Linked DNA regions of Homo sapiens. The protein of the gene in region 1 interacts with the protein of each later gene in a biochemical or structural test. Each region holds a gene or a part of one and is shown in the gene's direction. Other genes may lie near its edges. The genes, in order: CDK6, PPM1B, KIF26B and CDKN2B.

Evidence for each region.
Region 2: of the proteins of CDK6 (region 1) and PPM1B, one has a biochemical effect on the other in vitro, tested with the Homo sapiens proteins (one study listed by BioGRID).
Region 3: of the proteins of CDK6 (region 1) and KIF26B, one has a biochemical effect on the other in vitro, tested with the Homo sapiens proteins (one study listed by BioGRID).
Region 4: the proteins of CDK6 (region 1) and CDKN2B form a complex in vitro, tested with the Homo sapiens proteins (one study listed by BioGRID).

The regions. Positions count from the first base shown.
Region 1 is NC_000007.14:92,825,901-92,834,341, reverse strand, and holds part of CDK6 (cyclin-dependent kinase 6), read left to right. Parts: intron 1-382; exon of another isoform or gene 383-539; intron 540-651; 5' UTR 652-1,018; coding exon 1,019-1,251; intron 1,252-8,441. UniProt on the Homo sapiens protein: Serine/threonine-protein kinase involved in the control of the cell cycle and differentiation; promotes G1/S transition. Phosphorylates pRB/RB1 and NPM1.
Region 2 is NC_000002.12:44,171,162-44,179,602, forward strand, and holds part of PPM1B (protein phosphatase 1B), read left to right. Parts: intron 1-8,441.
Region 3 is NC_000001.11:245,157,050-245,165,490, forward strand, and holds part of KIF26B (kinesin-like protein KIF26B), read left to right. Parts: intron 1-8,441. UniProt on the Homo sapiens protein: Essential for embryonic kidney development. Plays an important role in the compact adhesion between mesenchymal cells adjacent to the ureteric buds, possibly by interacting with MYH10.
Region 4 is NC_000009.12:22,001,111-22,006,454, reverse strand, and holds the end of CDKN2B (cyclin-dependent kinase 4 inhibitor B), read left to right. Parts: intron 1-207; coding exon 208-468; 3' UTR 469-3,552; downstream 3,553-5,344. UniProt on the Homo sapiens protein: Interacts strongly with CDK4 and CDK6. Potent inhibitor. Potential effector of TGF-beta induced cell cycle arrest.

The DNA.
Region 1 (8,441 bases):
GAGTCGTTTTTAAATGTCTCCTCGTAGAAAAACTGAAAGTAGAAAGAAAGGAAGCAATTTCTGAGCAGATGTCTGACCACCCCTTCTCGCACACTCCCAGCATCGGGTTACAGGGTCCTGGGAGCCCCCACCCACATTCTGCGGCCCCACACGGATGGACCCACAGTCCTTCCGCTCCAGCTTGTGCGCGACCCCTGAACGCCCTCCGGCACCCCTGGACCCCGTCTCCCTGCACGTCCGGGCCTCAGGAGGCGGGGAGGGTAGCGGCGCAACACAATGATATAGGGATAAATATTAAGCCGTGACATTGACGTGCCCGGCGCCTCCCCTCCCCCGCGCTCCCGGCACACTCTGGGCTGCTCGGCACGCCCCCTCCCGTTCCACTGCGTCCCGCGCCGCTCGCTCATCCCCGAGGGGCCCCTGCAACCTCTCCGCGCGAAGACGGCTTCAGCCCTGCAGGGAAAGAAAAGTAACTTCGCTTTTCTCGGAGGAACCAGGAAGGATTAAGCGGCTTGGGAGAGGGCAGGAGCGCGCGGAGGGTAGCGATGGAGGCTTCGTAAAGGAGGAGGAGGGGAGTCTGGAGGAACCCCGAGGAAGGCTTCTGGGCTGTCTGATTGCACTTTCTTCTTATCCTCCCGTCTCCTCCTTTAGGTGCAATGATTCTGGACTGAGACGCGCTTGGGCAGAGGCTATGTAATCGTGTCTGTGTTGAGGACTTCGCTTCGAGGAGGGAAGAGGAGGGATCGGCTCGCTCCTCCGGCGGCGGCGGCGGCGGCGACTCTGCAGGCGGAGTTTCGCGGCGGCGGCACCAGGGTTACGCCAGCCCCGCGGGGAGGTCTCTCCATCCAGCTTCTGCAGCGGCGAAAGCCCCAGCGCCCGAGCGCCTGAGCCGGCGGGGAGCAAGTAAAGCTAGACCGATCTCCGGGGAGCCCCGGAGTAGGCGAGCGGCGGCCGCCAGCTAGTTGAGCGCACCCCCCGCCCGCCCCAGCGGCGCCGCGGCGGGCGGCGTCCAGGCGGCATGGAGAAGGACGGCCTGTGCCGCGCTGACCAGCAGTACGAATGCGTGGCGGAGATCGGGGAGGGCGCCTATGGGAAGGTGTTCAAGGCCCGCGACTTGAAGAACGGAGGCCGTTTCGTGGCGTTGAAGCGCGTGCGGGTGCAGACCGGCGAGGAGGGCATGCCGCTCTCCACCATCCGCGAGGTGGCGGTGCTGAGGCACCTGGAGACCTTCGAGCACCCCAACGTGGTCAGGTGAGCCAGGGAGCTGCGCCCTCGCCATCTGGGGCCTCGCGCGCGCGGGGAGGGCCGAGCCGGGAATCCTCAGGCCCAGAAAGGTGCGGGGCAGAGGGCGACTGGGGAGGTCCTGCGCGACCTGTTGGTCTTACAGAGTGAGAGTTAAGTTTTGTCGACAGAGCCGCGAGCCAGAGCCGGTGACCTTGCCAGACAGCGAGCCGAAAGACAAGTCAAAAAAACATGACCTGAGCAGGCTTCCCTGCAGCTGTGCAACTTAGAAGCGTTTTCTCCCTGCCCACCCTGAAGGAGGGTCTGGGGGAAGTGGGTGCGTTTTAGGGACAGGATAAGCCAACCTGAGACATGCCCCGCTAGCCCCCGCATATTTTTCGTGGCCATGCCGTTGGGGAATTTTTGAAAGACAGAGTAGGTGAGACTGGAGAATGAGGATGCCGTGTGATAATCAGTGGGAACTTTATGGGTGGAGCCAAGTGTAAATCAGGTTAACAAGATGCAGAAACATCATAATATTTTTGCCAGTCATACTCTCAGTTTCTCTTTATTAAAGTTGCGTAGTAAGAATGACTCCTGGTGGTCTAAGGAGTTTGAGTGCTGATGCCCAATCTCAAACAGCGTCATAAAAATTTCTTCCAAAACTGTTATCCCTGTGTCTGTTTTACTTTATATCTCTGGGCGGACATACTCTTTAGACTAATTCTCCAAAGGGTTAAATGTGAGTCCAAGATGTGGTATGGTTAGATCATAAATGTTCTGCCCATGCTTTTCCCAGATGGATTGTGCGAGTGGGTGGGGAGACAGCAGTTCTTACTCTCTCCTGTGTGGTAACCAGTATTAAATGAAAATGTGTGACTTAGGATAATGGTGTTTTCTTAGTGATCCTGGAATTTCCCCATTGTGTGGTTGACATTGTTTGGTTGTGTCATCCTTTTCTTTTTTAAACAGAGATGCATAGCTTTACATTGAAAAGGAATGCCTAGAAACTTCTGCAAATTGGGTTGTGATTTTACCTTTCTCGATCTTGAGAAAATGTGTAGCAGAAATATCTTTTTTCTCATCCATTTAGGGCTTCTGTTCAACAAATACATGCCTACTGTGTGCGCTGAGGATGAAATGATGTAAATAAGCACAGCTAAATATTTTTGTAAAAAGTCAAACAATTTAACATTAGTCATCAAAGTGGAGAGACCCAAGACTGACCTTTGAAATACCAAACTCTCTACAGACTCAGAGAGACCAAATATCTACAGAATCTTCTTGGGAGGTTTTAACTTGTCTCCTCTTATCCCAGGCTGGTGATTTGTGCGGTGCTTTGTTCCCAACGCAGTTTAGACTCAAGCTAGAAGGCATCAAAGAATCATAAATATATAAATAAGGCAGTAAATGGTTATAAAGTTAAGACCGCATTATACCTCGGCCTAGCTAGTGAAGGAGAATGAGTGTTTTAGAAGATGAGATTATATATAAAAACCTATAGATGACTTTTTTTCATGTGTATTTTATTTGTTAAAAACAACAAAATCCGTTTTTGGGGCTCTTTGTGATATTGGAGGGAAAAGGGGAGGGTATATTTAGCCCCCTGTAACTCAGCTGTCGTCCTAGGGGAATCACCTAATACATCCCGAAGGATGAATTCCACCACTACAATTTTAAGACGGAAGTTCTTGTTTTATTTTGTCTGTTACCTATGGAGTATCCAGTTAAGGGTGCTTATCATGTATATGAATGAATAGTGTCCTTCCAAACGTAGAGGTACTACAGAGGCACCCCTGTATAACACTATTGTTTACAAAGCTTACGCCATTCTTATACCAGAGGCACACTTTCTGCCATTGTGCTTGTAGATTTTGTCTGATCCATCCTATTCTCTTGATTTATCCTCCTGAGATTGATGTGTTTCTAGACGTTTCTAACTGACCCATGACTTGGATTCTGTACTGTGAATTTCAGGAGGATATTCTTATGAACTGAAGACAAAGGCATTGTTTTCTAAAATTATTTTTACGTGTTAAGGTGATGATGGCACCTACCTGTTAAAGTCGTGAGAATAAAATGAGATGGCGTATGTGAAAGCACTTTGTAAATTTGAAAGTACTTCAGATATCTAAAGGATTGTTTGCGTTTCAGCAGATTGATGGTCTCTTGCCATGGAGCAGCTTCACAGGGAGGGGTCAATTCACCTGACCTTTTTTGTAGAACAAATCATATTCAAACCCAGACATTACAGGCTCTGGAACCAAGAAGATCCTTGAGGATAATTAGCCTGTAAGATGTCAGAAAAGACTCTCAGTCACGAGCCATGAAATTCAGTGATACTTGAGGAAATTATTGATGATGTCACCCTCATGAGCTACAGATCTTCATTCCCTTTTTGTTTCCTTCCTGTTTCTTCTCTTCTGCCTCTGCCTTGAAACAACCATTGGTCCCCATGACTTGCTTGGCCAGACTAAGAATTCTGGATTTTAGAGGCTGCGAATATTTGCTCAGACAGGGTCAGGAAATAAGGACAGTTGACAGCAATTCTTTTCTTTCCAAGGGAGAGTTGTCAAAGTTGGGTCCCCAAACCTGTGATTTACTATTGCCCCTGGGATTAGTTTTACAGTCTTAAGCCTGGTTCTTTAATGGTTTCTTAAAAGGGCAGATGCTTTTATAAGTACCTTCAAGTCATAAGTAATTGATCATAATTATAGGCCCTCCCCCACAGATAGTTAAGCCTCTAAGCTAACAGGAGCATAATAAACATATTAGTTTTTTCAAAAGTTTAAGATTTAATTTTGATGGATTTGCCAGAAAAGCTGACTTGTTATTGCTGGCACTGGTACTGCCTGCATGCACAGGGATAATGACTTGAAATTCTTGCTTACCTGCATTTGATGTATCCCAGGCCCTCGCCTGATCAGCCAGTGAGTGTCTGGGAAGTAAATTTACTCTTTTTTTACATTTGGTAATCCCAAATCCTGGAACCTTTGCCAGAATAGGACTTCACTGTGAACCTGTATTGGAGTTTCTGCACTGCACAAATGGATCCTGTTTGAACAGCCTGAACTAAAAACAATAGAGATAAAATTATAGCATGTTTTGTCAGCAGTCTGTTCATTCACCAAATATTTACTGAGGGTCCACTATGTGCCAGACTCTTCTAGAAGGTGGGGATATAGCAATGAACAAGCCTGGAAAAGTCTCCGCACTTGTAGAACTTGCCTTGTAATGAGATGAGCAGTTCTTTCTTCTCTTTAAAAATTTACTCATCTTTGTTTTAATTGCCTTGTTTTGTTATACTTAACCTAACCAGTTTTATAGAACAACTGATATTTCTGATAATTCGGTTACCAGGAATTTCCTGATTGAGTAGGCAACATAACCAAAAGGCTAATCAGAATCAAGTGCTTTTTGAAGATTAAATTTTACCTCCCTAACATAGGGATTGATCTATATGAGATACTGACACATAGCTAATATAAGTGAACATTTGAGCTCCATTTATTCAAAAAGGATTTAGGAAGGGCATATGCTTTAAAAACCATGGGGCTAGGTGCTGGGAAAGATACCAGGGTAAATCATACCTAGCTACTCTCCTGAAGCAGTTCTTCCCATGTTTGAAGGAATAAGATGATCACCATAACCCTGATACATGATAGGATCATGTGCTGTAAGAAAGATACAAGCCAGTGCTTACCTGTATTGTTTCTAGGGATTATATTTATTAGTGTAACAGTAAAAGCAATTCAAATTCAAGTATTGGCTCTGGAAACTAAAAGTCATTACATATCAGTGAATAAACTTGTGATGTTTAAATATTATAATTAGAATAGTCACTGCTTTAAAAACAAAACAAAAAACCCAAAGAAAAGGCTGTAAAGCTTAATGATTATTCAAGGAGAGTTTTCTAATTTTCTCTCTTTTTTAAAGATCTTAGTAATATATTGCATAAAAGGTGAGTAAAAATGTGATTTTCTCTGGAAAACCTAATTGTTAACAGGGTAAAAGAAACATGACATATTTGACTCTGTAAAGCCAGGTCTTCAATTGGATTAGTTCATGAGAATCCTTCTGAATAAAATTGCTATTTGTGTGGTTGAATAATACATTTACTAGGGCTTTTTTCAATAAAAGCAGGAAAAGCAGGAGTTTAATTCTCCTTTTAAATATCAGTATGTTAAAAGTATGTTTGTTCTTTCTGTCTCTGAGAGTTCCTTGAAAAGTTTCTGATTTTTCAAGGTTGTTTAGTAAATAAACATTTTCACAATGGTATTCTGCTCATTTTTTGTTCCTACAGAAGAACTTGATAATGCTGAATTTTTGACATTGCAGTTATATCCCTTTTATACAACCACTATCAACATAGAATTATTAGAATCTCTCTATGGAATCAAGGACAAAAAAGGTCTATAAGAGGAAAACTTGTATAAACTTGAATATCTTTGAGGATATTTTCCTATGTTTAAGACATGGGTAAATGAATATCTATGCAAATAGGTTCCTATTAAAAATAAATTATTTCTTTTTTAAAAAAACAAATGTCTCACTATTAATGATTTCTTAGGAAAGTTTTTTAAGAAGGAAACACAGCATACATGCAGCCTATCATTGTAAAACCATGGATATTAGGGTTGGAAGACACTCTGGAGGTCAAGCTACTTGTCTGTCATGCCATTTTAAAGTTATTGACTTGTTCTTAAAACTAAGTAGCAATTTTTGTTTGTTTGTTTGATGGAAGCAGTTAAATCGGGTGAGTACATTTCTAGTTTGGAAAAAATGAACTGTATGTAGACAAAAGTGACAGTTTGCCAGGAATGAATGACATAACGATAAATGAATAAAAATTCAGTAAATTCCTGAATTCTGCAGTATGCCATACTGAAGTATATCTCTACAAGAGTATTATTCCAGTAAATTCTTCTTTTAAGGAAGTTGTGCTATAATTATGATAATTTAAATTAATTATAATAATTTAAAATAGCTATAGTTAAATGATGATACAGGTAAATTATGCAGGTAATTCATTAATAATATTGAATTCATTTTAGACAAAGAGGAGTAGGAAAAATTGAAACACTTAGTACTTGTCTGATGAATGAAATATTACATAATGTGGCTCTGGCACATTATGTAACATTCTGGTTAATGAAATAAAAACATCATAATACTTAAAAATTAGATGGCATAATAACCATCAGACACATAAGCAAATATGTGTTTTCCATGCCTTCTGAGGAACTAATCACACTATTGTTCTTTCTCATGAGGTTCAGATGAGTTGCTCTGTCTTCATAGGAAGTAAATTAATTGTGAGCTTCTTGATGTAACAGAACACAGCAGAGATGAAATCTGGGTGTCAGTGAATTGTTAACAGGAGAAGTTAGTGTGTATGATGTTGGGCTTTGTCCAAGATCCAGGAGGCAGCACTGAAAACGCACCGGTGGTTGATAACAAGCATACTTACATGAAGGTCACTATTTGAGTGATGATCCATAGATGCTAGGTTTGGTGGAGCAGGCAGGCCAGCAATCAGAGAGATTTTTCCAAGAGCTGCTGGGTAGTTTTCTTGAATATCACCAGTTTGCTGCCATACCTGATTTTTATTTTACCAGCTGCACATGTAGCTGCTCTTGCCTGAGAGGTGAACCGGAGGGACTGCAAGGCATGTGGCAGGAATCTATGCAAGTGTACAGTTGTAGTCTGGAAGTCCATTTGAGTCAGGATTATTATTAAACATTTTTGACCATCTCCTTTGTCTATAGTAGTTTGCCGAAATTTGGATATCTACTGGCTTTGTAATTTAAGTAGCCACTTAAATTATTCCTATTCTCTGGCCTTCCTAAAGGATTTAGTTCAGTAGAATTAGAATCACAGCATAAGGATTTTTTTAATTGGAAGAAGTCTTAGATTTAACCTAGTGCAACCCCCTTTGATCTGTTTTATAATAATAAAATTTGAGTTGTTTTATGAATGCAAAAAATTATCTCACTGTTAGTGAACAGTTTTATTCTGTGATTGTATGCATTGTAGATATAAACTGATTGAGGATGGCTAAGATTCAGACAGAGGTTTATATTAAACATTGGTAAGACAGGATGACTGATGGTCATTGGATATACCAGAAAAAAATCCCTTGAGATGTAAAAGTATTTTCAGTTTAGTGACTTTATGTTTGCTGACTTGAGAACCAGGATTGTGTATTTTATATCCATAAATAACATGGTGTCCATAACCATTGGTTAACCCGTATATGTTTCCTGATTGATTGAAATTTTAAACCCCTTAGATAAGCACTTTTCATCGTTTTAGAGTTGTATACTGCATTAGCAAGTATCTTGGACTATTGACATTGGGAGATCTGTGGGTATTAACTGTAAGGCATACACATGTGAAGTCTATTTAGTAAGAGTCTTCAAATACTTACTCATATTTAAACTTTTCCTGACTATGCATTTTTTATCTTCAATATTGTACTTGCTTTGGCTTTGACAGGATATTCTCATGTTCTTCCTCTGTATTTGTTAACATGTATCCTACAGACAGATGGACTACTCCATTTGCCCTAATGGATTTCTTGCCATCCACCTCTATTACTTTAATTTGAACAGATCTCTGAATGTGCACTTGGTACCTCTCCTGCACCACTCTCCACCTGTTGAAATTCTGCTTATCCTTCAGGGCCAACCTCAAATGTCACTTTCTTTGTTCTGTATTCCTTAATACCTCGATTTGGATAACATTTCTGCTTCCTTTGAGTCCTGGTAACTTTGGACCTCCTTTATGGCACTTAGCTTGTATCTGTCCCCTTATATTATTTCTGTTATGTAAGATGGAATGTTAACTCCCATGACAGCCCTCTTCTGACTCTCTACTCTTTCACACCCTATTTGTAAGCTCTTTAAGGCAGAGAGTGTCTTGTGATTACATTCGTTTATATCCTGTATCCATTGGATATAAGGTGAATACGTAACAAGTGAGTGAAATCATTGAAAAGGGGTCCAGTTATAAAGGAAGACACCATATGAATTATTTCTATCATGTGAAATAATGTTAATACTAAGGAGTGTCAAGGAGGGAGAACGGATCTGCATATTGGATTACACTTATTGGGATTCCTGGGAAATAATTTAGGAAATACTGAAAAAAGGAAGTTTCATTTTTGTCTTACTCCAATCTACATAGTTTATATGAAAGTTTAAGTATAATTCATTCTT
Region 2 (8,441 bases), on another chromosome or scaffold:
GAGCTTTCAACACCGTTTTCTTACACTGGGTGTCTGATTTCTGTGAAGACTCTAGGAATAGGTGAAAGGCCTTTCAATTTAGTCATGTCAGTAAATACTGTTTTATGTTAGTAATTCACCTAATTACTAAATTCCTTAAGATTACATCATCTGAAGGAATAGTGTAGTGTCCAAGTAACTGTGCTTCTAAGAACAGCTGATTCACAGGTTGACAGGGTCAGAAAAAGTGGCTCTTGTTGAAAGTTATCTTTTCTATAACAAACATTTTTTATGGAATCTTTTGAATTAAAATATGATGCTGATTATGTCTTGGCAGTCTTGGAAGCTTAGAATTGGCCACGGTATCACTTAGTGATTGTGGTGATTCATTAAAAAGAGGCTATATAGGCCAGGTGCGGTGGCTCATGCCTGTAATCTCAGCACTTTGGGAGGCTGAGGCGTGTGGATCACTTGAGGTTAGGAGTTCATGACCAGCCTGGCCAACATGGTGAAACACCATCTCTACTGAAAATACAAAAATTAGCCAGGTGCGGTGGCGCGTGCTTGTAATCCCAGCTACTCAGGAGGATGAGGCAGGAGAATCACTTGGACTCACGAGGTGGAGGTTGCAGTGAGCCGAGATTGTGCCACTGCACTCTAGCCTGGGTGCCAGAGTAAGACTCTGTCTCAAAAAAAAAAAAAAAAAAAAAAAGCTGTATTTCATGAATATTTTTATATGTAACTATTTTAAAGTATTTTGTGACATTACCTAGCATAGAAAGTAGTTAAGTAGTATAATTCTAACTCTCGCTTTTAAAAATGCAACATACAGTATTTTATATTTTCTGTGAAATATGCCTTTCACAATTCACTGATTTTAGTAAAAATTAGCAAACAAATAACTGGTGGCATCAGAATAATAAAAGTTTGTTTAATCCAAAATTATAATAGCAAAATTTATTCAAGTAATAGCATAAAATGTGAAATCATGATTATGGTAAGATAATTTTCAGGAGTATGATATTCCTGAATTTTCAGTTATTCTTCACACTGTACCTGATTTCTTTTTGTTTTTCCCTTGCTGAATTAATTTCAGAATTGGAATGAAATGGAATACTGCTATTATATTAGCAGCTTTAAAGTTTTATTGTAAAATGTATCGTATATTAGCAGAATTGATGGTTAAGTGTACTGACATTTCACTATGCTATACTCAAACATTGATGGTGAAATAGAGTTTTGGGAACTATTTAATTTTTGTAGTTTGTAGTTGGCTGTCATAAAATTTGCAGAATGACAGAACTGATCATCAGCTTCTAGTGGCTGATCTAACAAGAACAGGTGAAGAAAAAGGTACATGAGCTTCATAATGTGTATTTTTTCTTTGTTTTTGTTGGTGTTTACTTACATCAATACATTGAGTTAAAAAAATGGGTTTTCATCTTTTGGATTAATTTAAGTATGCTAAAGCCATTTTAGAATCTTTACAAGTAAAATGTTTCTAGGCCGGGCACAGTGGCTCACTCCTGTCCCAACATTTTGGGAGGCTGAGGCAGATGGATTGTTTGAGACCAGCCTGGGCAACATAGCAAGACCCTGTCTCTACAAAAAATAAAGTTAGCTGGGCTTGGTGGTGTGTGCACCTGTAGTTAGCTGCTTGGGAGGCTGAGGTGGGAGGATCGCTTGAGCCAGGGAGGTCAAAGCTGCAGCGAGCTGTGATTGCACCAGTTTGCTCCAGCCTGGATGACAGAGTGAAACCACGCCTCTATTTTTTAAAAAATTCTGATGTGACTTAATCTCTTTGTGTCCATTTGATTTGAGATGATTGACACTTTTGAACATTTCCATCCATATTCCTTTTCTTAAAGACTACCTAGAAGACTAACAAGCGTGGCCAGGCGTGGTGGCTCACGCCCATAATCCCAGCACTTTGGGAAGCCAAGGCAGGCAGATCACTTGAGAACAGCCTGGCCTGGCCAACGTGGTAAAACCCAGTCCCTACTAAAAATACAGAATTTAGCCAGGTGTACTGGCCGGCCAAAAAAGACTAACAGACCAGATACTGGAATCAGCGTTATGGTGAAAAGAACCCTTTACTAAATTCTTGATGATGTTACAAAATTTTCCAAAAGTGTAATCTATATAGTGTATTTATTTCTCAGAGTATTTAAAGATTTTGAGATTTAGTTTTTAGTAACATATAACATCCTAGGAAACATAAATACTGTACAATAACTTATATACTTTTTTTCTTTTTAGTTTTCTTTTTTCATTTCTTTTTTGCCCCTCGAGATCTCATACTTCGTAGTTTTCCTTCAAATTACAGGGTGCTTTATTTCTCCCCTTTGGTTTAACTTTAATAACAACCATAAACACTTTACTTCTGAATTAATGGTAAACCATGACACAGAAGAGTGCTTAAATACATTTTTTTCTTTTTGTTTTACTATAACTAATCACATCTACAATATCTTGTTATTGCTTGGCATAACATATACCTTTTATAATAATACTCTTCATGGCCGGGCACAGTGGCTCATGCCTGTAATCCCAGTACTTTGGGAGCCCGAGGTTGGTGAATCACTTGAGGTCAGGAGTTCGAGACTAGCCTGGCCAACATGATGAAACCCTGTCTTTACCAAAAAATACAAAAATTAGCCGGGTGTGGTGGCACATGCCTGTAGTCCCAGCTACCCCGGAGGCTGTGGTGGAGAATTGCTTGTACCCGAGAGGTGAAGGTTGTAGTAAGCCAAGATCACGCCACTGCACTCCAGATTGGGCGAAAGAGTGAGACCCTGTCTCGAAACAAAAATAATAATACTCTTTGTAATAACTTGTTTAACCTCAAGAACCTTGTAGCTTAATCAATTGTAGTATTTTAATTTGTTAGTTCATATATTATACATTTGACATGGTTTATAACATTTAAAACACACTTTACTAATTTAAAACTTTTGATTTATCACACAGTTTAATATTAACTTGTAAATATAAAATGGATTCAAACTTTTCTCTTGGAGAATGTTTAAGTATCATCAGTATTCTATTTTTTAGCTTTAAATTGATTCATTTCTTGAAAATTAAAAATCTTAAAGTTTAGAAACATAACACTTCTTGGAAAATTGTTTTGCATCCTTGTGAACAAAAGAAGATCCAGTTAAATCCGATCTCATACTTAGAGGAGACAGACAAACTTTGGAAGCCATGTATTGACTATTAAGGAACTTGTCTTTCTCTTAGAGATGGTACCAATTACTGGTAGTGATATAGGGAGGATAAGACTTGTCTCTAGGATTGCTGTGATTATTGTCTACGTAGAATGGCCTTCACTTCAGAATCAGTTGTGAATGAAAAGTACATTTGTGTGCTAGAAATAGGAAAAAACCTTGTCTTTTATAGAAAACTTTTAAAATGCAGTTATGTTATCAGGTAGATTCAAACGTATAATATACAAGAAAATAAAACAAATGAATAAGTGTTGTTTGCCAGAGAAGAAGCAGTTCTGATCAATAATATGTAGAGTAATTTGTAAGAGTTTGAAGGCTTGCGAAGCGCTTTTAAGCCTGAGAGTAATGTCAACTCATTTTTAAATCTAATCGCATTTTATTTTCTTGATTGTAGGTATCAAGAGCACTCCTCGCATTGAAAAGGGCTGGTTACTGGATGTTCTTATGAGTAGGAGAATCTAGAAGTGTCAGCATGGGTGTTTAACCTATTTGGGCAGTGTTTTTCCTTTTCCTTGTTCTGACTAAAGCATTTATCTCTGAGGTGGGGAAATGGCATTTTCTGTTGAACACAGGTGGCCTTTCTTAGTCCCTTAAAAAGAGGACATGACTGGGCCTGGTGGCTCACGCCTATAATCCTAGCACTTTGGGAGGCCGAGGTGGGCGGATTGTCTGAGCTCAGGAGTTCGAGACCAGCCTGGCAGCACGGTGAAACCCCATCTCTACTAAAATACAGAAAATTAGCTGGGTGTGGCGGCATGTGCCTGTAATCCTAGCTACTCAGGAGGCTGAGACAGGAGAATCGCTTGAACCCAGGAGGTGGAGGTTCAACCCAGCTGAAATCGCGCCACTGCATTCCAGCCTGGGCAAAAGTGAGACTCCGTCTCAAAAAAAACAAAAGTGGGGGTGGGGGAACATAATTAATTCAAAGCACTCCAAATGTTAAGATTATATAGGAGATTTTGTTGAGCTTTGGGAGGCTTTCTGCTTTTATTTACTCTGAGCTACCAACCCACTGAGAAGTAAAGAATTCAGAACAGTCTAATAGTATTTAGTCTGTAACCCTCCAGCCAATTCTTATGTTCACTGAGTGCCTTCTGTGTGCAAAGGCCCCCATTTCATGCCAGTATCTGAACAAAACAGACAAAATCCCAAATCCTTGTCGTTGACGATCTTGCATTCTGTTAACCAGCAACTCACAGTTTACATTACAGCTGAACTCCTTATGTGGCTGGCTTAAAAACTTGAGTGGAAGATTTGGGGTGTGTGTGTTTTGTACACTAAACTTAAAAGCTGTGATTAGAGCTTTACTATTTTTAACAAAAGGAAAGGAAGAGGTTTTCTGTAATTGGATAAAAACTAGACTGAAAAGAGGAAAGAGGAAATATTGTTGTGCCTTAGAGAAAGACATTGGTTTGAGATTTTTTTTTTTTTTTTTTGAGACGGAGTCTCACTCTGTCACCCAGGCTGGAGTGCAGTGGTATGATCTCGGCTCACTGCAACCTCCGCCTCCCAGGTTCAGACAATTCTCCTGCCTCAGTCTCCCGAGTAGCTGGGATCACAGGCATGCACCACCACACCTGGCTAATTTTTGTACTTTTAGTAGAGATGGGGTTTCACTATGTTGGTCATGCTGGTCTGGAACTCCTGACCTCATGATCCACCTGCCTCGGCCTCCCCAAGTGCTGGGATTACAGGCGTGAGTCACCATGCCCTGCCTGGTTTAAGATTAAAAGATGACCCAAAGAGAGAAAAAGAGATCCCTGCATTAGACAGACATGAGGGAAATTTGGGGCCTTCAGGTGTTTCCATTTACTGTACATCCTTGGATAGATGAGTTCCTGGAAAGGAGGATGGGAGTAAAGGTGGAACAATAGGAGAAGGGTGAACAGGATTTTTTAAGTCTGATTTAAATAATTGGGATATACCTATAAAATATATGTTGTCATTTATGTTTAAAAAGCTTTCTGTTCTTACGTGAGTATAGCTGAAGGATTAGTGGTTGACCAATAGTGCCTGGTACTGATTTGTAATGGCTACTTTTGTGCTCTTAGCAAAGATGGCTAATGGAGCCAATTTGTCTCTTGGTTTATTGTGCACAACTTGGTCTATATATTTATCACTGCTTCTCCTTCCATAGCTTTGTTGTATTACTTAACGTCGTGCCTTTGTTTTTTCTGCATGTGAGATGGGCGTATTGCACTTAGATGTGTGAAGCAGGTGCTTAATTTTTGCTTTCTGTTCTTTCTATTGCTTTCCTACTGAACCAGTTTGGTAAAGAGGCCTCTTCTTCAGTTTATACAAACATTGCAAACTTAAGCATAAAAGATCTTTCATCTTTTTGTTCTTATTTTAATGCTTGGTGGTCTTGTGCTTTCATTTATGAGTCAGTTTCATTTGATCTTCATTGCTAAAGTGAATCAAGATTGATTTTTTTAATTTTAAAGCAAATCAACCAACTGGCTGGGGTGCAGTGGTGCAATCTCGGCTCATTGCAGCCGCCACCTCCCAGTTCAAGCGATTCTCCTGCCTCAGCCTCCCAAGTAGCTGGGATTACAGGCCTGCGGCACCACGCCCAGCTAATTTTGTATTTTTCGTAGAGACGGGGTTTCACCATGTTGGCCAAGCTGGTCTCAAACTCCTGACCTCAGGTGATCTGCCCGCCTCAGCCTTCCAAAGTGCTGGGATTACAGGCATGAGCCACCGTGCCCGGCCTAGTTTCATTTTTAATGTATTTTTGTAATTCTGTTACTTTATCAAAATGCTGATATGCAAGAGAACTTGAAATTTTGGAATATATTAAATTTAGTACTGTAATTCAGACCAGATTCATTAAGTTGTTCAACATTTGGCCATCTATCTTAGATTTAAAAATAACCAAAAACAACCTTACTTGAATTTAAAAAAATTATCTCTTGTAACTGGTTTTGTTTATATAATCTAACATTTTATTAAGTCTTTGGTGGTTGCTAGTCCTAAACTTAAGGAAATTGAGTTTGTTTCTATTCATCTGTTCTGGAGTGTTTGGAATTGCAATGTGAAAGTGAAATAACCTTTTTTTTTTTTTTTTTGAGACGGAGTTTTGCTCTTGTTGCCCAGGCTGGAGTGTAGTGGCATGATCTCGGCTCACTGCAGCCTCCGCCTTCAGGTTTTAAGTAATTCTCCTGTCTCAGCCTCGTGAGTAGCTGAGATTACAGGCACGTGCCACCACGCTCAGCTAATTTTTGTATTTTTAGTAGAGACAGGGGTCTCACCATGTTGGCCAGGCTGGTCTCGAACTCCTGACCTCAAGATCTGCCCGCCTCGGCCTCCCAAAGTGCTGGGATTACAGACATGAGCCACCGCGCCCGGCCTACATGTATGTATTTCTAAATAGCATATAGTACTGTTTTAAGAGGTGTATGTACATGACCATATACAGAATTTTTTTTTTTTTTACAATTTGTTCTTGTCACTTAATATTTTTGCAGTTCTTTTTTTGTTCTAGTCCCTTTTTTCCATAGTATTGCATATATATTGCATAGTATTCCATTGTATGATTAGAACAGTTCTTTTTTTTTTTTTTTTTTTAATAAGACAGTCCGGCTCTGTTGCTCAGGCAAGAGTGCAGTGGCTCAATCTTGGCTCACTGCAGCCTTGCCCTCCCAGGCTCCAGTGATCCTCCCACCTCAGCCTCCCAAATACCTGGAACTACAGGCGTGCACCAACACATCTGGCTAATTTTTGTGTTTTTTTTGTAGAGATGAGGTTTCACCATGCTGCCCAGGCTGGCCTCTAATCCCTGAGCTCAAGTGATCCACCTCCTTTGGCCTCCTAAAGTGTTGTGATTACAGGCGTGAGCCACCACAGGCAGCTAGAACACATTTTGTCTAGTCTTTTTTGGAAGGACATTTGGATTATTTTTGTAATTTTAATCAATGGTCTAAAACCATTTACATGCCATATATATATGCGAGAATTTCTCTAGGGAGTAAAATGGCTGAACTGTAGGCCATCCTTATCTTATAGCCCTAACTAGATATTTCCAAAATTCTCTCCAATGTTGCTATACTAATTTATACTCCTACCAGTGGTGTATTTTATATATGTATATATATATATATATATATATTTTTTTTTTTAGACAGAGTTTCGCTCTTGTCACCCAGGCTGGAGTGCAATGATGCAATCTTGGCTCATTGCAACCTCCACTTCCTGGGTTCAAGCGATACTCCTGTTTCAGCCTCCTGAAGTAGCTGGGATTACAGGCACCTGCCACCACACCCAGCTAATTTTTTTGTATTTTTAGTAGAGATGGGGTTTCACCATGTTGGCCAGGGTGGTCTGAACTCCTGACCTCAGGTGATCCTCCCGCCATGGCCTCCCAAAGTGCTGGGATTACAGGCATGAGCCACCATGCCCAGCCAAAAGTTTCTGTTGTTTTAATTTAGTGCTGTCCTATATAAATGTAAGGTAATTTAAATTTTTCTAGTAGCCACATTAATAAAAAAGACATAGGCAAAGTTAATTTTAGTAATGTATTTTATTTAATCCAGTATTTCCAAAATGATTCAATATATAAACAATGAAGTTAATTAGATATTTTGCATTCTTTTAAAAAATATTAAATGGTGTGATTGGGCTGTGTCCCCACCCAAGTCTCATCTTGAATTCCCAGGTGTTCTGAGAGGGACCCCATGGGAGGTAATTGAATCATGGGGACAGGTCTTTCCTGTGCTGTTCTCATGATAATGAGTAAGTCTCATGAGATCTGATGGTTTTATAATGGAGAGCTTCCCTACACAAGCTCTCTCTTTGCCTGCTGCCATCTATGTAAGATGTGACCTGCTTCTCCTTGCCTTCAGCAGTGATCATGAGGCCTCCCTGGCCACATAGAACTGAAAGTCCATTAAACCTCTCTTTCTTTTGTAAATTGCACAGTCTTGGGTATGTCTTTATCTGCAGTGTGAAAAAGTACTAATAAATTAAATATTTAAAATCCATTGTGTATTTTACACTTACAGCAAATCTCTATTAGCATTAGCCTCATTTAACATTCCTACTAGCCCCGAGTGGTTAGTGGCTACTATACCAAACAGCAAAGCTCTGTGTTCTTGTCTGTGTTTGATATTGAGAGTCTCTCTCTCTCTCTTTTTTTTAATCTAAGGAGAGAGAAATGGTGTTTTATTTTGACTTTAATTTTCCATCTTCCTATTAGTTTTCCTAATGACAAAATCTTACAGGCATAAATATGGAATT
Region 3 (8,441 bases), on another chromosome or scaffold:
ACAAAAATGTCAGCGGGAGCTGTAAAAGCAAGCTGATGCTCGGAGCTGGCATTTCCCACTGCCTGTTTGTGGTCCATCCTTTCCGCGGTTGCAGAAACAGAAACATACTCGAAAGCCAGCATTTTCCCCTTCTCAGTCTGTGTGTGTGTCTGAGGAAGATCCGGAGGCGGGTGGCTCTTCGGAGCAGTGCTCCCTCCTGGCCTGCTCCTGCGCCAAGCACACTGGTTCCTCCATAGCAACCCTGCCCGCAGTGTGTGACTGGCCCGAGCCCCCAGGGGATAGCAATGCGATTGTATTTGCACTGTTGGGTCCAAGTACTATCAAATGATCATATTTACTCGGCCACTTCAAAGAGTTTTTATCAGTGGTTAGAGAGCAATATCAAGGAAATAGAGTGGATTGCTGTAGAGGTTTTTGACACTGTTGGTTCAACGTCAATTTCTGGTTTATTATTTCCGTGACTTTAGAAATGAAATACTGTGATTTCGAGTAGGCGTTTAGGAATGACTGCGTCTGCTGGCCCAACCTGCGTATGCAGATACACACGTTGATGTTTTCATAGGCAAGGGTTAAATTCAACAAATGCCCACAGACGCTGTGAAACTTAAAATGGGGGAAATGACCACCAGGAGAATTGGTTTTATGAATGCAGAACTTATCTCAAGAATAATGAACTCGTGGATGGTTGTCAGTGTACCGTTTTTGTAGTTTGATACATCTGCCGTGACATCCCAAGGATACATCTCAAGGAATCAAAAAGCTTATTTCGCTCTTGCGTGCTAGACCTTCCGATTTAACACCGTTTCTTCATTCACAGATTTATTTGCTCTCGTGATCCTTCATCAATATTCATTGATTTTCTACTCCATCCGAGGCACTGTGTCAGGCACAGCAATGAAAATACCAGGTCCATTCATGCAGTCCTTGTCCACGTGGAGCTTAGATTCTAGTGGAGGATACAGATAACAACCACAAAATGCACAGTTCACAATGTCTTCACATTTGTGGAGGGAATGTAGGGTGCTGTGAGGTTGTTGAACTGGATGGGAGCATCTGATAAAGATGGAAGGACCTTGGTTCTTAAAGATCTAGTAGCTGATATTTGGCAGTCCTAATACGTTACAGCCTACCAAATTATTTTAGACCTTTCTTGAGGACCTATTCTTATAATAGGCTTATTGTGGCTTTGGGTGTTCCTATATGCAAAGGCCGATCAAAATACACTCTTCTCATTTAAAAAAAGAGGAGGGGAAGGAAAATCTACAGAGGAAACAAATGTTGAAACTCATACGCATCCATCATGTTTTATGGAGTCCTGTGACCAGCTGGAATCTTGTTTTTATAGAAACAGCCTGGAACATTCACTTACAGTGTCACGGGAGGCAGCTCAATATATTTGCCAATTTTATGTATGTGATAAGGTAAAACTCTTGTTGGTAAACTGATTGTATTGTCAGAGTGAGGTGATGGCCCCAGAAGAAACACTGGATTTGCTGAACCCCCATGCTCTACAATGACTTCGAGTGATCCAAGGACATCTAGAGAAGACCTGGCAGTCATGGGGGCAGTCACAGGGGATCACTTTAAGTGCATACGTGAATGTCACATAGTACCACAGTCGCCTGAGTTTTATATGTGAAGCAGCACAGTAAAGCGTGACATTTGGTGCAAGGGCATAGACAGGGCTCAGCCAGGAAGAAGGATGCTTTGCATCAGCTCATTGTTAGTAATGAGATGTGGGGCCTCAATTTTAACTACAAAATTTCTGCAAGCCTTTGTGAATAATAATTGTGTGTGTGTGTGTGTGTGTGTGTGTGTGTGGTGTGTGTTTTAAGCATTTGTACCTTGCATTTAGGTACAATTTCCATTATACCTTTAGCATTTGCAACCTTATAGCCAAACAGTTGCCATGTTCTCTGGTGTACCATGGATGGAGGCCATGTAACTTGGATAAGACTTTTCTTCTTCCCGGAGCAATATTAATGAACAAACTGTGGACCACTGTAGCCCTCAGGCACAGAAGGAGTTAAGTTTCATTAGAACAAGAGGTGTCACTGTGACTCCAACATGCAGTTCGCTCAGTTCGCTCTGAAGAGTAAGAGTCTGGAAGATAAAGACATGTTTTTGAGGAGTAATTAACAAAAATCATCTGTGTAATTTGCTTAAGATGCTTACCTGCATTTGGGAAATATTTTCTTAAATAGAGTGTTAAATTCTACTAGGTGGTATTAAATGTCTCCTAGGTAGATATTTAAAAGTCAAAAGCAGAATAGCACATCCAGGAACCTTAATATTTTAGGATGGATTTGGTTTTGGTTCTTCTTCACCACTGATTTACTTTGTGACATTGGGTAAATTAGTTTTCCTCTCTACTTTTTAACTTTCCTATTAATATCCTAAGGAAAAAAATGAATGAGACTATTAAAACGTCATTAAAATGATCCAAGGTAAGGTCTGAAAAGTGCTTTCATTCTTTAGAGAAAGATATGAGGGTTGATGATTATTAATGAGCTAAGATTCTGTTAGATTTATGTTTTACAGAATTTAAGGTTTTTCTTATAAGATATTACTCCTGTCAGTTTCTAATTTCATCTGTATATTTTCTAAACATGCTGCCATATGAGTTCTCACACTGTGCCTGTTGGTAGGTAGCAAGCCCTATTGAATCCCCCGTTCTGTCTTTGGAACAGTTGGTTAAGGAGGGGAGGTGAAGTAGTAGAGAGCCCATTCCGGGTATCTGGTTGGTTCCAGGAGCTAGTGCCTGGCTCTGGTGGCCTGAGAAGAACCATCTTATTCTGAGCACTCCAATGGAGGATAGGGCTTCATGGTAGAAAATGACATTATTTGAACGTAACGGAGTGGGTGATAGTGTTGGCTGAGGTAGGAAATAGGAGGAGACATGGAATTGGATGGAGCTCAGAGGGAAGGATGATCATGAGTTTGGTTTTCCATGCAGCGAGTCTGAGCTTTCTGGAAAGAGATGGAGGCAGATTTAATAATAAAACACTTTGTTTTTGGCTATCTCAAGACTGGCGTGTAGAAGTGACAGCTGTGAGCTCACATAGCTCTGCTGTTGATACTCTGTATTCATCCTTTCCGATAGCAACTTACCTGGTGAGTAGACGTTTGTGCTTGGTGGCAGATTGTAAAACACTCAGATTGACTTTTATTACCTTGATCAGTACAAAAAGTACTTACTGGGTTTATATCGTTTCTCTTTTGGTGCCGGTGAGTGGAAGTGGTCGGATAAAAGAATGTGGACGTGTAAAGTGTTGAGATTTTAAGTGAGAATGGCCCTTTTACCCACTGTAGCCTTCCAGTGTGTGAATACAAAACCATTTCATGTCCAATGGCAAGAGCATCTTTCCTGCTTTGTACACAGTCAGGGCACTGAGCCAGAAATAGGGGCCAAGGAACGAATTGCTCAATTTTGGGCTAGCCTAGATCATTCTGATATCTGTGACAGAACTTTTGAATGGACTGGGCAAGTCCTACGAAACAACAGCCCAACGAAATTCCCTGGAGTAAGCAGTAAAGCTCCAGGTTGGCAAAAGGTTATCAGACATCTGTTCATTTCCATATCAATAAAAGAAAATCTTTTATGTAAAAAAAAAAAAGTGCAGAACTATGTTCCTATCTGATTGTCTCTCAGTCAGATATTCTGAGTCCATTTATGCCCCAGAAATATCAGGAAGATTAGCCAGACATACTGAGAAGGGTGGCCAGGAATCACAGAGATGAAAGAAAGGAATGCGTCATAGGGGTTAAAAACGCCAAACGTGGACTCTAAATAGCCGGAGACCAAGTAAGTCTAGACTTGAGGAGATATAGATATCCCCACATGCATATTTCTGTATTTTGCCAGCTCCAAAAGAGGGGTATGGAAAAATAACTAGACGCAAAAAGTCCCCCAAAAGCCATCATAAAACATTTTATAGATAGGATAAAACAGACATTGCATTTCGAGTACTTATTAATTATAAGGGACTTCTAGCTGAAATCTTCTCTTTCTTCTAAGAACATGTGGCTATTTTCAAAAAGCTTCATTTGAGTCTTTCTCATATCAGAAGTATTTTAGATAAAGGAGCAGTTAGTAGATAATAGCAGTCATGAAAAAGTCCTACAGCATTTATCATTTGAAAATTTCTGAAACATTTTGGGAGTTTATAAAAACATTCCCAGGAGAGACATGTGAGCAGTAATCTCTTTTTAAGGCTTAGCAAGCTGTGGAATAATGGCAGTTCATTCTACCAGACTATTAATTGTGAAGCAACATGGTCAGTTTTTATAGTGACTTAATTCACTTTGCAAAAATCCCTGGCCTGCAATAATTCCTTCCACACCCATTGCAGATAGGATTACTACATTAGAAATGTGATTTTTAAATGGCTGAGGCTGGTAGTTTGTCAGCATTTGGAAGGATTAAGTCAATTAAAATGGAGGCAACATCAGTTGCCATTTGTTATTTGGCATTATATCACAGATTGTACCATGAGTGGGCCAACAATAGCGATGATAGTAATAATAATAATATGTAATAAATGGCTAACAACGATTGTCCTACATACCACGAACTACACTGAAACACACACACACATAATCTCATATATTAAAATGAAGATGAACGTGATTTTTTCTTTTTTACCCTGGAATTCCAAGTGCTTGATGTGGTTAAGATCATAGAAGGAAGCATGAAGAAAAAATATGCAAGGAACAGAGAAATCCAATCACACTTTCCCCTAGAAGCTGTTAAGGGTCCCTGTGAGTAGAACTGACTGAGTGAGAGGCACCGGCTCGAGATGGTTATTATTTTTCCTGGGCTCACAGATGAGAATTTTACTTCCAGTGAGTGGGGAGGTTGGGGGAAAGTATGTGAGACTGTCAGGTTCTGAGTTGAGGAATTGTCTTGGCTGGAATGCAAGGGGCGGGGGGAAGGAACCTCCTTATATTTACGTGCACCCATTGGAGACCCTGTTGTCATCCCTTCCTGAACAGAAAACCCTGCCCGAGGGCCCCGTCCTGACCTTCTGCGAGGAAGAGTTCTTCAGCCGGCCATTTCAGTGCCCCATCGGCAGGGCGGCCAGACCTCTGCTCTGTTTTGTCCTCAAAAAGATTGCAAATTGGCTGGTGTCTGGGAGGGTTCTTGGTCATTTTGCAGGAATACAAGACAAATTTCCTTTTTACCACTCTCTGCAGTCACAAGCTATTCATCAGCATCCTTTCTTTCCTGTTTCTCGTCTATGGTGTTATTGTGGCGAAGGAGCACTGTTGAGAATGTGCTCCCAATCGCTCTTTTATACCTATAGATGCACCCATCAGAAATATCTTTTTTTTTTTTTTTTTTTTTTTTTTTTGAGACGGAGTCTCGCTCTGTTGCCCAGGCTGGAGTACAGTGGCGTGATCTCGGCTCACTGCAACCTCTGCCTCCTGGATTCAAGCAATTCTCCTGCCTCAGCCTCCCGAGTAGCTGGGACTACAGGCGCCCGCCACCACGCCCAGCTAATTTTTGTATTTTTAGTAGAGATGGGGTTTCACCATATTGGTCAGGCTAGTCTCTATCTCTTGACCTTGTGATCCACCCGCCTTGGCCTCCCAAAGTGCTGGGATTACAGGCAGAAATATCTTATTTTAAAGTACATTCGTGTAGATGCAAAAGGACTGGGGATACACCTGTATTCCTAATGTACTTTTGAAATATTTGTCAAGATATCAACTCAGTTTGTATCCATCATTGGCTTACCATTGCCTTTGGAACTGCTCCAGAGCCTATCTGAGAAAATTGGAAATGAGTGATTGTTAAAAAGATGTTTGTCCACCTCCAGGTCTCAAAGAACTCACCTATGTTTTCTTCTAGTATTTAAATAGTGTCCTTTTTAATATTTAGATCTCTAATCCATTGAGAGATTATTTTGGTGCAAAATGAAAGATATAGATCAAATTTCATCTTTCTCTAAATGTCTATCCAGTTGTCCCCACTTTATTAAAACATTCTTCTTACTTGCAGACTTCTTCTTGTGAAAAAAAGAATTTATCTTTCTCACATTAATTGAAGATACCACCATTGTCATAAATCAAATTTTCAGTTGTATCTGGACCTATTACAGGATCTTCTAGAATGTTCTCACTCTGTTGTCCAGGCTGGGTTACAGTGGCACAATCTCGGCTCACTGCAACCTCCGCCTCCCAAGTTCAAGCAGTTCTCCCGCCTCAGTCTCACAAGTAGCTGGAAATACAGGCACGGACCACCATGCCCAGCTAATTTTTGTATTTTCAGTAGAAATGGGGTTTCACCATGTTGTCCAGGCTGGTCTTGAACTCCTGACCTCAAGTGATCTGCCTGCCTTGGCCTCCCAAAGTGCTGGGATTCCAGGTGTGAGCCACTGCGCTTGGCCCACACTATTTTAATTATGGAAGCTCTGTAGCATGTTTTCATGTTTGGCAGGGCTAGCTCTCTCTCCCTCAAATAGTGCCTTTCTTTTCTAGGAGTTTCCTTGCCTAACTCCAATTTTTTTTTTTGTTAGGACCGTGTTGAATGTATACATTAACCTGGGGGAATAGTTGGCATCTTTATGGTGTTGAATCTTTCCCAAGAACATGGAATACCTTTTCATTTGAACAAGTCTACTTTTTAGCAATTTTTAAGAGTTTCTTCATATAGGCTTTGCACATTTCTTGTTAAACTTTTTCTTAGGTATTATAGCTTTTGTTGCTATTGTAAATGGAGTCTTCACTTTCATTATCTCTTTTAATTGATAATTATTTATGTGAAGGATATTGATCTACATGTTTTATATCCCGTCGCCTTATTAAATTCTACTATATTCACTGATTTTTAAAAAATTGGTACTCTTGGATTTTCAAAAAATTTTGTCTTCTTCAAATACAGATATCATTACTCTCTTCCTTTGCTATTTTTATGCCTCTAAGTGTTTTCTCTTTTTTGTTACATTGGCTGGTACTCCTGACACAATGTTACATAATAGCGATATAGTGGGCATGTGTATATATTTTTTTCTATTAAGATGTTGGCTTTTGGACTGAGATCTGTCTATATTTTTTAAAGTTAAGTAAATATCCATCAATTCCTACTTTAGTGTTTTATTAGGAATGGGTATTATATTTTGCCAAATGTCTTTTCAGTATTTAGAGAGAGAATCATGCAATTTTTCTCCTTAGATTTGTTAATATTGTGAGTTATTATTATTGATTTTCTAATAGTGAACCATCCTTGTATTCCCATAATAAACCCCACTTGGCCACAGTGCATTTTGAAAGATATGCTTCTGGATCCAATTTGCTAATATTTCATTTATTGTTTTTGCTTTGATATTCATATGCCAATGAACATTTTTGATTCCTGTTTATGTGCCAGTTCTAGTACTATGCCACATTATAATCCAAATAGGAAAAATACTAAAATTCCTGCCCTGGAGCAACTCACAGTCTAGTGTCAGAGACAGGCAAGGAACGTGGCGAAGCGTAAGCGTTCCAGCCACAGGAAACGGCAGGCATAGGCCAGGAAGGGGTGATGCGTGCCCCCTACATATGGGGAACTGAAGTCGCACATGGTCACCATACACAGTATTTGTATGAGTGCGTGACAGGCTGGAAAGGAGGCAGATGGAGGATGAAAGGCCTTGTAGGCTATAGGCTGGACTTTATCCTGTAGGACGTGGGCAGCCATTGGAGGGCACTCATGAAGGGAGTGAAATGATCAGATATGCATTTAAGAAAGATTGCTGGCCAGGCACGGTGGCTCACGCCTGTAATCCCAGAACTTTGGGAGGCCAAGACGGGTGGATCACCTGAGGTCAGGAGTTCGAGACCAGCCTGGCCAACATGGTGAAACCCCGTCTCTACTAAAAATACAAAAATTAGCCGGGCGTGGTGGCCCACACCTGTAATCTCAGCTACTCGGGGCTGAGGCAGGAGAATCGCTTGAGCCCGGGAGGCGGAGGTTGTAGTGAGCCAAGATGATGCCACTGCACTCCAGCGTGGGTGACGGTGCGAGACTCCATCTTTAAAAAAAAAATAAAGATTGCTGTGAGAATGAGCAAGAAGATGGGTTGGAAGAGTGGTGTCACCGAGACCAGTTGGGAGGCCCCTTGCAGTGGCTTGAGTGAAGAATGACACAGACTGAACTAGGGTAGTACAGAGGGAAGGGAGAGGCAGCTCCGGCCTGACACATATCATATGTAGAAAACCCGCCATGGGGAGCTGCTGAGATACGGGGCCAGAGGGAGAAAAGATGATGCATTCTCCCAGGTTTCTGGCCAGGGAAAGTGTGTGGGTGGTGCTGCCAGTTATGGAGATGAAGAATACAGGCAGAGAAGGGGTTTTGTTATTGTGAGCCCAGTGTTCGAGGATGGCTGTGGATGTTAAATTGATTGGGGTCTCTAGAGCTTGAGGTGGAATGGTCCAATGGGCTCCTGTTGGCGCTC
Region 4 (5,344 bases), on another chromosome or scaffold:
TACTGAGTATAACCTGAAGGTGGGGTGGGAAAGTGGATTGCATCAGCAAATGAAGAAACACCAGACATCAGAGACCTGAACACCTCTGCACTGGGTGAAAACTTTGCAATTAGGTGTTTCTTTAAATGGCTCCACCTGCCTTGCCCCGGCCGGCATCTCCCATACCTGCCCCCACCCTGGCTCTGACCACTCTGCTCTCTCTGGCAGGTCATGATGATGGGCAGCGCCCGCGTGGCGGAGCTGCTGCTGCTCCACGGCGCGGAGCCCAACTGCGCAGACCCTGCCACTCTCACCCGACCGGTGCATGATGCTGCCCGGGAGGGCTTCCTGGACACGCTGGTGGTGCTGCACCGGGCCGGGGCGCGGCTGGACGTGCGCGATGCCTGGGGTCGTCTGCCCGTGGACTTGGCCGAGGAGCGGGGCCACCGCGACGTTGCAGGGTACCTGCGCACAGCCACGGGGGACTGACGCCAGGTTCCCCAGCCGCCCACAACGACTTTATTTTCTTACCCAATTTCCCACCCCCACCCACCTAATTCGATGAAGGCTGCCAACGGGGAGCGGCGGAAAGCCTGTAAGCCTGCAAGCCTGTCTGAGACTCACAGGAAGGAGGAGCCGACCGGGAATAACCTTCCATACATTTTTTTCTTTGTCTTATCTGGCCCTCGACACTCACCATGAAGCGAAACACAGAGAAGCGGATTTCCAGGGATATTTAGGAGTGTGTGACATTCCAGGGGTCGTTTGCTTTTCAGGGTTTTCTGAGGGAAAGTGCATATGAAATCCTTGACTGGACCTGGTGGCTACGAATCTTCCGATGGATGAATCTCCCACTCCAGCGCTGAGTGGGAGAAGGCAGTGATTAGCACTTGGGTGACGGCAGTCGATGCGTTCACTCCAATGTCTGCTGAGGAGTTATGGTGAACCCACAACTTAGGCCCTAGCGGCAGAAAGGAAAACCTGAAGACTGAGGACAAAGTGGAGGAGGGCCGAGGTGGGCTTCAGTAAGTCCCCGGCGGCGCTTTAGTTTGAGCGCATGGCAAGTCACATGCGTAAACGACACTCTCTGGAAGCCCTGGAGACCCTCGCCCAACTCCACCAGATAGCAGAGGGGTAAGAGAGGATGTGCAAGCGACGACAGATGCTAAAATCCCTGGATCACGACGCTGCAGAGCACCTTTGCACAGGATGCTGGCCTTTGCTCTTACTACACTGAGGAGAGATTCCCGCGGGTTCCGCAGGCAGACTACACAGGATGAGGTGGTGGAGTGGAGTGAGAGCAATTGTAACGGTTAACTGTAACGTTTTCTTTCACACACACACACACACACACACACACACATGCTAGGATGCGGAAATCCCCTTATGACTTGCTACTTTTTGATTTTGTGATATTTTGTACTTTTTAGTTGTTCAGCAACTGTCTTATTTAATGGGGAGATTTTAAGTAACATAACTAGTGGCTCTCAGTTAAAATGTGAGGAAGAACTACAGCTCTTAAATGTAGCAATGGCACTGTTGCAAACTCAGTGCAAACGCCTAGATTGCTTTCTTCTTAACCTATTTATTTCTTTGTTAAATTTTTCTGATTGTTTCCTTTATAGAGTGTCTCAGGGTGCAGAGGTCAGACTAAGAAATATTCCAAATGTCTTTTAGAAGATAGATGCACTTATGCAGTAAATTATCTTGGGATAGTTCCCAAAAGATTGCTGAAAAAGTAGATTGAGTATAAAAACTTGAAAATATATGATGGCTCGTGGGATGTCCTACTATCACTGAACAAACTAAAGGTGCACTGCTTTGGGATTTAATTTCCAGGGTTGCTTGATCATTATATCATTGGAACAACTGATACTTCACTACTTTAATAAAGAATTAACAGAGATTGAACTCCAAGAGGTGGGTAATTTGGTTTAAAAATACATGTTCATGGGTTTACCACTAACTCCTGAGAAATGTTAAAGGTTCACAGGGGTTCCCTTCTCTCAATGTTTGTAATAATTGCTCATAAGCAATACCAGCAATTCATAAAAACTGCTTACTTATGCCATAGAAAATTAAACACAAAGTGTATACATGTATTATGCTTCTAAATGCTCATTCTACCAGATACACATTTAAAAGAGAAAAAAGGAACAGAAACAAGTCATTTGAGAGTGGAGACTTATAAGAAGGAGTACATTTGAGTTGAATACACAAATCTTTACTTCTCTACCAATTCCTATTCCCAAAATGAACATATTACTGGGGAAAGTTAGTTGAGAATCAGAGCATATGTTATTGGGGAAAGGATATGTTTATTGACACATAATCTGTACCAGGTATGCATTAAAATATATTTGTTAATTTAATATTTAAACCTGAGAGATAGGTATTGTTTCCCAGATGAGGACAATGAGGCAAAGAAATATCAAGTAACTTGCCAAAGGTTACAAGATATTCATTCCATGGATGCACAAAGAAGTGCATCTAGTTCCACAGCTGATTATGGTTGTCTTGCTTTTCTTCCCATTGCACCAGCTTGTCCTCCAAAATCATGAATGATACACATGAAGATAACTTTTTTTAAAAAAAAGCAGAAATACACAATGATCTCCCTTGTAAGCTCCTAAGGTGGCTTTTCTTTCTCTAACTTCTAGTAAATATAAACGGTTTGTTTGAAAACTATTTTAAAATGTCAACAATATGGAGAATAACCCCCCCCAACACACCTATAAAAACCCAAATTTTTGGAACAAAGATAATGGAACCTCCATTTTCAAACTGAAGCACAGGGACAGAAAATATATTTCTAGTTATCACTTAAGCACTCAATCATTAGAGGCTACAAGAATAATATTTTTAAAGTTACAGTATTTTACAATTATTAGAAAACATTCTATATAAAAGAAGTCAGTTGATACTTTAAAATCTCCCATTTGGTTTATAAAATCCCTTAATTTGACCTCTATATCTTAAATTCCAAGATGTTTAAATTTGCTAGTTGCATTATACTGGGTCATGAAAAATTATCCCTTGAAATAGATATGAAACATGTTACTTCATTTCTGGTTTAAATAACTTGTGGAATCTTTCCTAATGACAACCTGATATTAAGGGAAACTAAAGAAAATGTTATTGTGGATCCCACAGTACTATATTACACTGTTTTTTTTGTTTGTTTTGTTAGTTTTTTTTATTTAAAGCAAACCTCAAACATTATTGGGTATCAATTACCACCTGGTTGTATTGAAATAGTAACTTATCAATGCCATGTAAAAATTAATTCCATTTTCGAAGCCACCTGGCAGACAGGTTTAGCTGTTTCATCAGCAGCCTAATATATACTGTTAAATTTGTTAAGGATTTCACTTTGAAGGATACATGCAAAACATATAGTTACTATTTTCATGAGTCCTGCTTCTAGCTCCATTGTGGAATACAGAAAATTAAATATACCTGTTAAGTTCGTATCTAAACCTAAGACATTACCAAGGTTTGTACAAATTCTACTACCTGACATTTATTCCAAGAAGATCTGGAAAGTTAAATAAATTTATAAATTTAATAACATTCATTTGGCTTCATTTTTATCTTTTATTTTTCACCTAAGTGGATGAATTTTTTAAAGGGTGTTTTGCTGTTAAAGCAAAATCTATGTAAAATTTCCTATGCCTTAAATGGTTAAAATTAGTAATTTCATAACTAAGGAATGAAACAGTTTCAAGAGGAGAGCTCGAGACTGATAAAACCCCAAACGCCTCTGGGAAAATGTATACTTAGGAATACTTTCATGATATTTTATTTCCCTAATATGGCAAGCACAATATTGTGACCAGCACCAAATAATTTATCATATGAAGCTAGGTAACTGATCTTCAGCAAATATATACAAAAACTAATTTCATTTACACTTACACTGAGATTGCCCTCCCTTTTTTGAAAATATTAACACACTGTGTGCATTGATATGTAATAGTCAGTAGGGTTTTTTTTTCTTTTTGCTGATTCTATAATTACCCCTCAATTATTTTAAACAGTAAAACATATACTCATTTTATGCTTTACCAGAGATGGATTTTTTAAATCATAGAGCATAATTTTTACAATGTTCAATACATTGCCACTCTATCAAAAGTGGAGCAAGTAGAACTAATGATATGCAAAACTTAGAGACATTATCTGAAGAAGCACTCATGTGAACTACCTACTGGGGCAAATGTGAAAGCCAGTATCTTCTAAAGTACAGTGAGGTCTGCCCTCATGTTTTATGTCAGCAACTAATCATAACCAAATTCTGACACGTTTACTAGATTTTCAGTATTAACAGAAACTGTCTAGTTATTTGATGAAAACTTGGAGAATAATGCTTAGGTTGGTGTAGTTCACAGTGTTCAATTACTAAGCTACAAAGAGATACCTAGATACACAATCACACATATATGAAAATAAGACAATTTTAATTTTAGAAATTACTTAAAGGGGCAACAACAGTTGAGCCTCAATACTTTCAATATTTTCCTATTCTACTTATAACGACAGGAAAGAAAGAGGGAATGAAGAAAAGTGAAACAAGGACTTGACTGGAAGATAGAAGACCTAGATTCCCACATTGGTTCCTTAACTAATTCAATATATGAGTGCTAACTCATGTAACATCTCTACTACTATCCTTCATACCTGAAAAGTTTCTATAAAACGTTTCTCAATTTCAGCTATCCAAATGAAATTACTCCTTTCTTGCCTCTTAAATTCCCTACTCAGAAGATTTTAATGTCATTCCTTGCGTAAGGAAAAAGAATACTTCATTTTACAGAAACACAGTAACTTTCACATATAGGCCCTATTAATTACATAATAAAAGAAAATATGAACTAATACTAGTGCCACTAATTAATAATATGTAATTGGCATGGATTGTATATTAAGCACAGTAATGAAAATTAATGTATGGGTCAAAAAGCACCAAGCCTGACTTACTAATTTGTGGTGTGAACTAAATGTAAAACAAAAGAGTTTGCTGGAAAAAGAACTAAGAACAATGTATTAAGATGACACACTGACTACCTCACAGCTATTCACATTACACTAGAAGTTTACAAAGGACCCCAAACACCTATTAATCCACTTCACACTCAGAAGCCCCTGGCATTAGACTTCCAGTAGATATATGGAGTCAGCTCTGGCACAGAAAATATTTTACAACAGAGTTCCACTCAAAACTTTAAGACCAATTACAGTAAGTAAACCATGTCTTATTTCTCATATTTGGCCTCCTCCCCAAATGCATAATCTATCTATCCTCTCATTATCAATGTTCTCTATTATGATGTTGTTGGGGCTACTTCCTCTGAACCCTGTCTTA